Linked DNA regions of Homo sapiens. The protein of the gene in region 1 purifies or fractionates together with the protein of each later gene. This does not show direct contact. Each region holds a gene or a part of one and is shown in the gene's direction. Other genes may lie near its edges.

Evidence for each region.
Region 2: the proteins of DIS3L2 (region 1) and NAT10 purify together in Homo sapiens (co-immunoprecipitation; one large-scale study listed by IntAct). This does not show direct contact.
Region 3: the proteins of DIS3L2 (region 1) and FTO fractionate together in Homo sapiens (co-fractionation; one large-scale study listed by BioGRID). This does not show direct contact.

What each region holds. Positions count from the first base shown.
Region 1 is NC_000002.12:231,968,177-231,971,832, forward strand, and holds part of DIS3L2 (DIS3-like exonuclease 2), read left to right. Parts: intron 1-3,656.
Region 2 is NC_000011.10:34,112,128-34,115,783, forward strand, and holds part of NAT10 (RNA cytidine acetyltransferase), read left to right. Parts: coding exon 1-96; intron 97-1,588; coding exon 1,589-1,711; intron 1,712-3,656. UniProt on the Homo sapiens protein: RNA cytidine acetyltransferase that catalyzes the formation of N(4)-acetylcytidine (ac4C) modification on mRNAs, 18S rRNA and tRNAs.
Region 3 is NC_000016.10:53,710,588-53,714,243, forward strand, and holds part of FTO (alpha-ketoglutarate-dependent dioxygenase FTO), read left to right. Parts: intron 1-3,656.

The sequences.
Region 1 (3,656 bases):
AAGCTTCGCCTCCCAGGTTCATACCATTCTCCTGCCTCAGTCTCCCCAGTAGCTGGGACTACAGGCACCTGCCACCATGCCCAGCTAATTTTTGTATTTTTAATAGAGACGGGGTTTCATTGTGTTAGCTAGGATGGTCTTGATCTCCTGACCTCGTGATCCGCCCGCCTCGGTCTCCCAAGTGCTGGGATTACAGGCGTGAGCCACTGCGCTTGGCCTAACTGATGTTTTTATCACTGTACATTAACTTTCATTTCCTAGAATTTCCTCTTATTTTATATAAATGGAACCACACAATATGTAGTTATCCTTCTTTCACTCAGCATAATTGAGAGTCATCCCTGTTGTTAAGTGTATTAGTAGCTGATTCCTCTTTATTGCTGAGTAATATTGCATTGTATGGATGTACCTCAGTTTATTAATACATTTACCTACCAATGGACATGTTGGTTGTTTCCAATTTTAGTTATTAACAAATAAGGCTTCTATAAAAATTTTGTTTACAAGGCTTTGTATGGACATATGTTTTTATTCCTCTTGGTTAAATACCTAGGAGTAGAATGGCTGGATCATATAATAGGTATATGCTTAACCTTTAAGAAAACTGTCAATGTTTAGTTATCCGTAAGTATTTCATAGTTTTTGGTGCTATTTGATATGGTTTGGTTTTAGGTCCCCACCCAAATTTCATGTTGAATTGTAATCCCTACGTGTCGAGGGAGGGAAGTAACTGGATTATGGGGCTGGTTTCCCCCATGCTGTTCTTGTAATAGTGAATTCTCACAAGATCTGATGGTTTCATAAATGGTAGTTTTTCCTTTGTTCTCACATGCTCTCTCACTTGCCTGCCGCCGCCGTGTAAGACATGCCTATTTCCTCTTTCACCATGATTATAGTTTCCTGAGTCTTTCCCAGCCGTGTGGAACTGAGTCAATTAACCCTCTTTCCTTTATAAATTACCCAGTCTTGGGTATTTCTATCAGTGTGAGAATGGACTAATACACTATTAAAATTATATTTTTAAAATTTATATTTCTGATTGACACTAGTATATAGAAATATGATTGATTTTTTTACATTAATCTTCTCCATCAATCTGGCTAAGCTCACTTAGTTCTTATTAGTCCTAGACCTTTTTTTTTTTTTTTTTTTGAGTTGGAGTCTCGTTCTATTGCCCAGGTAGGAGTGCAGTGGCGCAATCTTGGCTCACTGCAACCTCTACCTCCCAGGTTCAAGCAATTCTTCTGCCTCAGCCTCCTGAGTAGCTGGGATTACAGGTGTGTGCCACCACGCCCGGCTAATTTTTGTATTTTCAGTCGAGACGGGGTTTCACCATGTTGGCCAGGCCAGCGTCAAACTCCTGATCTCAAATGATCTGTCCGCCTCAGCCTCCCAAAGTGCTGGGATTACAGGCGTGAACCACTGCGCCTGGCGTCCTAGAGCTTTTTAATAGATTCCATTGGATTTTCTATGTAAAGATTATGTCATCTGTGAATACAGTTTTAATTCTTCCTTTCCAGGCTTTTATTTCTTTTTCTTATTGCACTGGCTGCAATCCCCAAGTAACAATGTTAAATAGAGATGGTGAGAGCAGATTACTTGTCTTGTTTCTTCTCTTAGGGAGAAAGCATTTAGTCTTTCACCATTTGTATATGCATTTTATCACTGGAGAAGTTTTCTTCTATTTCTAGTTTACTGAGATTTTTTTTTTTTTCGAGAGTGAACATTGGGTTTTGTTAAGTGCTTTTTCTGAATCTACTGTGATGATCATATGATTTTTTTTTTTCGAGACAGGGTCTTGCTCTGTTTTCCAGGCTGGACTGCAGTGGCATGACTGTGGTTCACAGTAGCCTTGACCTCTGGGGCTCAAGCAGTCCTCCTACCTTAGCCTCCCAAGTAGCTGGGACCACATACTACACCTGGCTGATTTTTTTTTGTTTGTTTGTTTTTTAGTAGAGATGAGGTCTTGTTATGTGGTCGAGGCTGGCCTTGAACTCCTGAGCACAAGCAGTCCTCCCACTGTCACCTCTTAAAGTGTTGGGATTACAGGTGTGAGCCACTGCACCCAGCCACTTTTCATTTGTTAATATGGTGAAATATCGCATCGATTTTCAAATACAGCCATTTGTTGCCTAACAATGGAGATGCATTCTGAGAAATGCATTGTTAGGTAATTTTGTTGTGCAAACCTCATAGAGTGTACTTTCACAAATCTAGATGTTGTAGCCTACTACACACCTAGGCTATATGGTAAAGCCTGTGGCGCTTAGGCTACAAAACTGTACAGCATGTGACTGCATTTAATACCATAGGCAATTGTAATAGAATGCTAAGTATTTATGTATCTAGATGTATCTATACATAGAAAAGGTACAGTAAAAATACAATATAAAAGATAAAAAAATGGTACACCTGTATAGGGCATTGACCATGAATGGAAGTTGCAGGCTTGGAAGTTGCTCGGGTGAGTCAGTGAGTGAGTGGTGAATGAGTGTGAAGGCCGAGGACATTACTGTGCACTACTGTCGACTTTACAAACACAGTACACTTAAGCTATACTGAATTTATAGAAAACATTTTTTCTTTCTTCAATAATAAATTAACCTTAGCTTACTGTGACTTTTTTTACTTTATAAACTTTAATTTTTTATATTTTGATTCTTATAATAATACTTAGCTTAAAACACAAACACATTGTACAGCTGTACAAAAATACTCTATGTCCTTATTCTATAAACTTTTTTCTATTTATTACTTTTTAAAATTTTTTGTTAAAAACTAAGACACAAACACACACGTTAGCCTAGGCCTACATAGAGTCAGGTTCATCAGTATCACTCTCTTCCACCTTGACATCTTGTCCTGCTGAAAAGTCTTCAGGGGCAGTACATGCATGGAGCTGTCATCTCCAGTAACAGTGCCTTCTTCTGGATACCTCCTGAGGGACCTGCTTGAGGCTGTTTTATAGTTAACATTTTACAGTTAAATTACTTATTTGATTTCCAAATTGTACTTTAGGTTTGGAGGTGCGTGTACAGGTTTGTTACATGGGTAAATTGTGTGTTGTCGGGGTTTGGTGTACAGTTTATTTTGTCATTTTTTTTTTTTTGAGACAGAGTCTCAGTCTTTCGCCAGGCTGGAGTGCAGTGGCGCGATCTGGCTCACTGCAACTTCTGCCTGCAACCTCTGCCTCCCGGGTTCAAGTGATTCTCCTGCTTTAGCCTCCCGAGTAGCTGGGACTACAGGTGTGTGCCACCACGCCCAGCTCATTGTTTGTTTGTTTGTTTTTTGAACGGAGTCTCGCACTCTCGCCCAGGCTGGAGTGCAGTGGCGCCATCTCGGCTCACTGCAAGCTCCGCCTCCCAGGTTCACGCCATTCTCCTGCCTCAGCCTCCTGAGTAGCTGGGACTACAGGCGCCCGCCACCACCCCTGGCTAATTTTGTGTATTTTTAGTAGAGACGGGTTTCACCGTGTTAGCCAGGATGGTCTCGATCTCCTGACCTTGTGATCCGCCTGCCTTGGCCTCCCAAAGTGCTGGGATTACAGGCGTGAGCCACCGCACCCTGCCCAGTTTTTGTATTTTTAGTAGAGACGGGGTTTCACCGTGTTGGCCCAGGATGGTCTCAAACTCCAGACCTCGTGATCTGCCTGCCTC
Region 2 (3,656 bases), on another chromosome or scaffold:
TTTGAACTCTTCATAGCAGCCACAAACATTCGCTACTGCTACTACAACGAGACCCACAAGATCCTGGGCAATACCTTCGGCATGTGTGTGCTGCAGGTGGGTGGCTTCCTCTAACCTGTGATTGAAGTCAGAGTCTTGAGGGTTGCTTGGGCTGCCTGGCTTTCCACTGGGAACAGATGTACAGTAAGGAGAGGAGAGTCCCATGTTCCCTATGCCCAAGCATTATTAGTGGAAGTCCTGGCCACTTTCCAAAGTACACTCGGTCACCTACCCCATATAAAAAGAGAATTTTAAATCAGCACTTGTCTAGAGACACCAGAACTGAAGTGATGAGTTATTATAACGGGTTCTAACTAGCTAAAGCTGATAAAGCAAATGCCAGAGACTTTGAGTGCCTCTAGGACCCTAGGTCCTTATTGGCATTCACCAAAGACTTTTTTTGTCCAGTGAGCAATGGGACTTGTTTTCCAACCGGATATAGACCAATGCACTTAAATGTCCTGTCCAGAGTGCCTGAGTGGCATACCCACCATGAAGGCCCCTCTCCCCTTTTCTAGCCCTTAAAAACCCCTCACTTTACCTCTCAGAGACTACTTGGTGAATTTCTGCACTGGTGTGTATTCTCTTGCCTGGCAAGTTAATAGACTAAGTTTCACTTTGTGTGTGTGTGTGTGCATGTGTGTGTAAGCACTGGTGGTCTTTGTTTTATTCTTTGTTTCTTTGATTCCTGTGCCACCTCCCTTCCCCATTCTCCCAAAAAAGACAAGACAAAATTAAGCACAAATCCTCACATTTTTGTGTGTTTATCATATACACTTACAACTGTGCCCATTATTATGTCAAGTTACATACCTTGCAAAATATGGGTTGTCTCCTATACTGCTGGCTTGCATCTCACCTTGGAGGCCAAGAAAGAGGGCATTATGCCTCATTTTCACCTTTACTCAGGGAAATGCCCTGGGTTATCACTGATTGGTAGGGAGTGGTCTTCTACTTGCTGCCATGATCAATTGCCTGAATAATGACTCCTGTGAGCAGTAGCTCCCCCATGTAGTATAGTTTTGTCAAACAGGTTTGAGCTATAAATGTCAGAAAATGTAAGATGTTTCTGAAATTCAAGTATGAATCAGTGAAGGTTGGAAAATTTGTTTCCAAATAGGATTTTATCAGAGACATTTTTGACATATAAAACTAACAACGTCTCTAATAAGAGACCCGTTTTTGGCATATAAAACCAGGTATTCGTATATTCGAGGGTTTGGCCCTCTTCTGTGGTACCCCTGTGTGTGTATCCTGGGAAGTCAAGGTGGGAACAGGTATGGTCTTGGCTTTGTGCTCTGAAGTCTTCTTTTTGCCTTATCACCTGGCTTTTGGTTAAGAGTCCCTTGGGTTGGGCCAGGCGCGGTGGCTCATGCCTGTAATCCCAGCACTTTGGGAGGCTCAGGTGGGTGGTGAGCCAAGATTGCGCCACTGCACTCCAGCCTGGGCGACAGAGCAAGACTCCATCTCAAAAAAAAAAAAAAAAAAAAAAAAGTCCTTTGGGTTGCTATTTGCATGACCAGCCCTTTCTAACGCCCCCTTCTTCCAGGATTTTGAAGCCTTAACTCCAAACTTGCTGGCCAGGACTGTAGAAACAGTGGAAGGTGGTGGGCTAGTGGTCATCCTCCTACGGACCATGAACTCACTCAAGCAATTGTACACAGTGACTATGGTAAGCATCTGTTTTTTAACTTAATTGTGAGGGTTCAAGTAAATCTGTTTTTGCTGTGTTCTGCTTTCTTTAAAGAATTCCTGTTGGGCAGCTCCAGTGAGTAGTCAGCACAGCCTCTGGGCTAAGAGCTCTTTGATTTTAACTAATGAAAAAGTCACTACAGTTAAATCTCAGGGTCCATGAGTATGCCTAGGAATCTCTGAATTTCACCTTTGTTTTCAGGCACTTGCAAATTCTACACCAGTGAGATTCAGATATGATACAGCTTTTATGTAGTTAAATTTTCTGGAATGATATTGTACAAGGAGCAATGCCAGTGCCTAAATTTGTGTATTGCAAAAAAAGGACCATGTGCAGACTGCTCACTGGCCCTTATCCTAATGGATGACGAAGGAACATTTGCCAGTTGTACTCCAGTTTGGCAAGAATTTCAACTCCAGCAGAGATTGTGTTCTCCCAAAGCAAAAGACACTGACTGAGGACATGGTGAGGAATTAGGGATATGTCTCACCTGATGCAGAGCTGGTCTCCTCACTTTATCAGCGTTGCCAAGTCAGTGTTCAGAGGCAAGTTTTAAGTCATGCCCATGTCCAGCAGCTCAGTAATGGTGGTCGGATTGGACTTAGGGTTTCCTGAGCTGCATTTATCTGATGAAATGGACTTTCCTCAAATCTTAGGGGCTGTTTCCTGTCATTACTTCTCCCTTCATCACTTGCACTACAGCCCTTTTGGCCTCCTCAAATGTCCTCAGACATGCCCAGCACACACTCCTGCGAGGGCCTCGGCACTTGCTGTTCCCACTGGAATGTGCTTCCTCTGGACCTCTGCCTGGCTCGCTTCCTCATTGCATTCAAGCCCCTGCTCAGATATCACCTCATCCATGTGGTCTTTCCTCACACCCTGTTTACAGTAGGCAGCTCCGCCTGTCACTCCTTAACCGGCTTTATTTTTCTTCAAAGCACTTGACAATGACCTAAAGTTATTATTATTATTTGTCTGTCCTCCTGTACTAGTCTCTAAATTTCACTGGAGGGCCGATCACAGTGGCTCACGCCTGTAATCCTAGCACTTTGGGAGCCTGAGGTGGGCGGATCACCTGAGGTCAGGAGTTTGAGACCAGCCTGGCCAACATGGTGAAACCTCGTCTCTACCAAAAATACAAAAAAAATTAACCAGGTGTGGTGGTGCACACCTGTAATTCCAGCTACTAGGGAGGCTGAGGCAGGAGAATTGCTTGAACTCAGGAGGCGGAGGTTGCGGTGAGCTGAGGTCACGCCACTGCACTCCAGCCTGGGCAACAGAGCAAGACTCCGTCTCAAAATAAATAAATAAGTAAATAAATTTGATGGGAACAGAGAGTTAGTTTTCTTTGCTGTTGCATTTCCAGATCTTAGAAGAGTTCCTGGCATTTAGTAAGCATTCCTTAGATAGTTGAGAGTGAATGAATGACTTTGTGCTCACATCAGTTTGTTCTTCCTCTCCCTCTGACATAGCTACCTACTTACCCTTCAGGCCTCAGCTTATCTCAGAGAGGCCCTCCCTCACTACCCTACATAAGTGACCCCCACTTGCTATCCGTGCAGTCTATATTTCATATGTAGCATTTGTCAAAATTTGTATTTATCTACTAATTTTTCTTCCTCCATCCATTATACTCCAAGTGCCATGAGAACAGAGGTCATGCTTTGTTCATTAGTGTATGCACAGCATATCTGGCACACAGCATGCCAATTTTATGAAATAAATGAATATAACTTAGGATGCTAGGAAAAATGTGGAAAAGTGAAAGATTTTAATAAGCAACGTTGCATTCAGTGTCTGATCCCAGTTTCAGCAAATACCATTTGGCACAGCAGTGTGTGTGGGAGTGATTTTGTTTCCAGCAAGATTGCCCATGTCTCCTTGGATAGAGCTTTGTATTTGGACCCTGGTCCTCAGCACTGTT
Region 3 (3,656 bases), on another chromosome or scaffold:
TTTTTGAGGAAAGATGGGGCCTCTAGAGGTCACATATTTATAATCCACATATGCCTCCTGGCTGTAGGTAAGTTTTATTTGGCCCAAACAAACTAAAAGTTGTTTCAGAATTATTTTCTAATATTTAAAAGTTGAGGGATTTCACATAAAGATCTGGGTGTCTGACTCTCTTGAAAAACTTAAGTATCTGGTAACAGTGGGCATGCATTTTCCTAACTAGAATTGAATAGTGGCTTCCCTTTTAGGTGGGAAATGTGCTTTCCATTTTGCTGTCATCCAGTTTTGCCCCTTAAGTTACAATATAGTGGTGTAGTGTGGAGCTTTAGATGCAGACTCCTGAGATTGAATTCTGCTCCCTCATTTACTTGCGCAAGCAATTTAACTTCTCTGAGCCTCCATTTCCTCATCTATCAAATAGGAGTGATATGGTTCTGGTAGGGATTGAGATATTATATAGCACATAAAACATTGCTGGCATACAGTAAAAATAAACATTGTTATCATCATCATTATCACCATCATCACCACCACCTTCACTACTGCCTATCTGACCCCAGTAGATATATATTCTGTATGTATATATATATATATGTATTCTGATCCCAGGACGTTTATTCTGTAAACTTATGTTGAGTGTCTAGTCAAGTGGATTTTCTCAAATGGGGTTCCATTAACTTATTTCCCATGCAGCCAGAATGGTACTAGTTTTGTACCACCTTTCAGAAAATTGAGAATATAGTCACTCAAACCATTTTCTGTGTTCTGTGGTTCAGATAAGGAACCTGATTAAGTGTCGAGTAGTGTACTCAGCACCAGGGTAAAGATGGCAGACACAGTCCCATGGAACTGGCTGGCTGTCCATGGAAGGTAAGTAAGTACCAACAGCAGAGTGGTGAGTTTTATCACGGGAGGACACGGTAGCAAAGAGGATCTAACATGGCCTAGTAGTCATGGAATTCCTTCCTTAGAAGATCTGTTTAAAGGTGTATCCTTATGAGAGGCCTGGGATTCCTTACGGGGTTTTTCAGAAACATTAAAACTGTTTCATTAGTCATGGAATAAAAAGCTATGGATGTTGAAATCCAAGTTAGCTTCAAAGACTCTTATGCTGGCTTAGGTTAGATAATCTTTTAAACTATTAAAAATAGAACTAGTTTATTATGGAAATGGTTATATACCTAAGAACATTTAATAATTTTGTTTGAGTAATGTACATTTTTATCAATGAAGGAAAATATCCAGAATATGTAACCTACCGTTTTAAGTAACATGATTTAAAAACTCTTCTGCTTTTGGTGATAGTTGTCTTATCAACTTTAAATGATAAGGTTTATTGAGTTATAAAAATAATAACTTGGCCAAATGCAGTGGCTTATACCTGTAATCCCAATGCTTTGTGAGGCCAAGGTGGAGGAGGCTCACTTGAGACCAGGAGTTGGAGGTTACAGTGAGCTGTGATTATGCCACTGCACTCCAGGCTGGGCAACAGAGTGAGACCCTGTCTCTAAATAATAATAACAATAACTCAACAAAAGAAAGTTTGTTATTTATGTTTTTACTGACTGGGTATTTTTACCTTATTTTATATTTCAAATTTGGCATTTTATTGAGGTCCTGAGAAGGTTCTTTTGGAGTCTACTTTTATTATGGGCCATTCTAGATTATGTCACCAGTTTATCTAAAGTGGACACTAAATATAGGACAGTTTTGGTGTTAGGCCAAAGACCAGGGGACTTGAAAAATGAAAACCTCACCTGACAGATTCTACTCTGTTTTTTTTCCTTCTTCCCGAAATCCATTATTATTTTTTGCTTAATCTCTCCTTCAATATATGGGTAAGCCTTTAATCACTGTTTCGGAGGTTTAGTTGACTTCTGTAAATAGAAGAAGAGTTAGTGTATTTGATCATAGTTTCCAAACCACTTTTAATACTGTACCTTACTTGAAAATTAACCAGCTAAACTATCGAGTAACAGTGAGTTCTTGTTGCTTTCTGTTATTTCCAGGCTGTTTCCTAACCCTCCTAGTACTGGTTTTGAAAACTAAATTAGCCATTCAAAAAAACTCTTAGACACTTTGAGCAAACAGTAGCTTCCTTGAAGATAGCATTTGTGTCTAATTCATCTTTTCATCTCTCCATTGTACCTGGCAGGATGTCTTCCACAAAGGAGACATTAATAAGTATCTGGTGAAGAAAGATTAAATGGTTGAGAGAGTCCAGCATCTGTTATGTGATATATGTGACCCTTCATAATTATGATTCTGGATCCTTGGCTGCTAATGAGATTTACTGTGGCTGAGTTTAGTGATACAGATTTTGGCATGTAGATGATAGTCTCCAAAAAAGTAGAGATCATGTTTTTTTTTTTTTTTCCGTTTTGTCATTCACCATTTTATCCCTAGCCCTTAAGATTTTGCCAGACACATGGTAGATATTCCATACTTGTCAAACAATGAATGAATGAATTCCCAAGAGCATCACTTGTTATTGGTCAGTAGACTTTCTAATAGTGAGAGATGGAACCGGAATTTGAAAGAAGTAATGGAAAATGGTTAAGTACCTTATGAATTTTAAATTAATATACCATAGGTGTGGGCATTAATTTTGAGAAACAAGACTCTTCTGTTCAACACATACTTTAGCAACTGTCAACACTTGTTTTCAAGTGTTCTCTTCCAATTTTAAAATGCCAGTTTACCTTTCAGATTTAGAGTATTTTGTTGTTGTTAGTTTATTATGGCAGTTTTCTTGCTAAAGTTATATTTAAAGTGTGACTTTCTAACTTCTAGAGGAGAGGAACTTTTGTTAAGGTGGTACTTTTGGAACCTTAATGAAAAACACACCTTAGAGAAGGTGAATTTAGAGTTCTGCTAAGCACATTCATTTACTCTTCTATTATAAACTGGTTTTGTAATATTTTATAAAATTGTCTCACTGGTTGATTTCACAATGTAAACTGGGAGGATTCTTAGGATTCCTTGGGTTGGATTAGAACAGGTTCAAGAGATGAAGATTTGTGTTGGTAGGGGCTTGTTTCCAAACGTTTGTCCTTGGCATGCTCTTTGTTAAGCCATCACATGTTTGAAAGTTAAACCTTGAATTGGTGCCATGGTTTGCATTTAAAAAAATGTATTTTATTATGGTAAGAACACAACATAAGATCTACTCTCTTACCACATTTTTAAGTGTACAATAAAGTATTGTAAACTGTAGGTACAATGTTGTATAGCAGATCTCTGGCACTGATTCATCTTGTATAATTGAAACTTTATGCCGCTTGATTAGCTCTTTCCCATCCTCCCAGCCCTGGTCATCATCTTTCTACTCTCTGATTCTATGAGTTTGACTATTAGACGTACATTTTTGTTTTTGCTATAAGCATCTGTCCTGTTGCTATGCTGATCATTTATTTACTCTGTAGTTTTGGAAATGACCTGCTTACAAGATAACCATGCCTCCCCTTATGTTAAAAAACTGCCATATGGATAAAGGGCAGTTAAGACCTTTACAACTGGTAGAAACCAAGTAGAAAATTCAGTTTGAAGGACCAAATTATGTTGCAGCTGCTCTGAGGAGGAGATTTGTTGCCAGAGCATGAGTGTTTTCATAATTGTTTGTGATCAGAAAATTCAGAGCTCTGATTTCTGCATTAGCC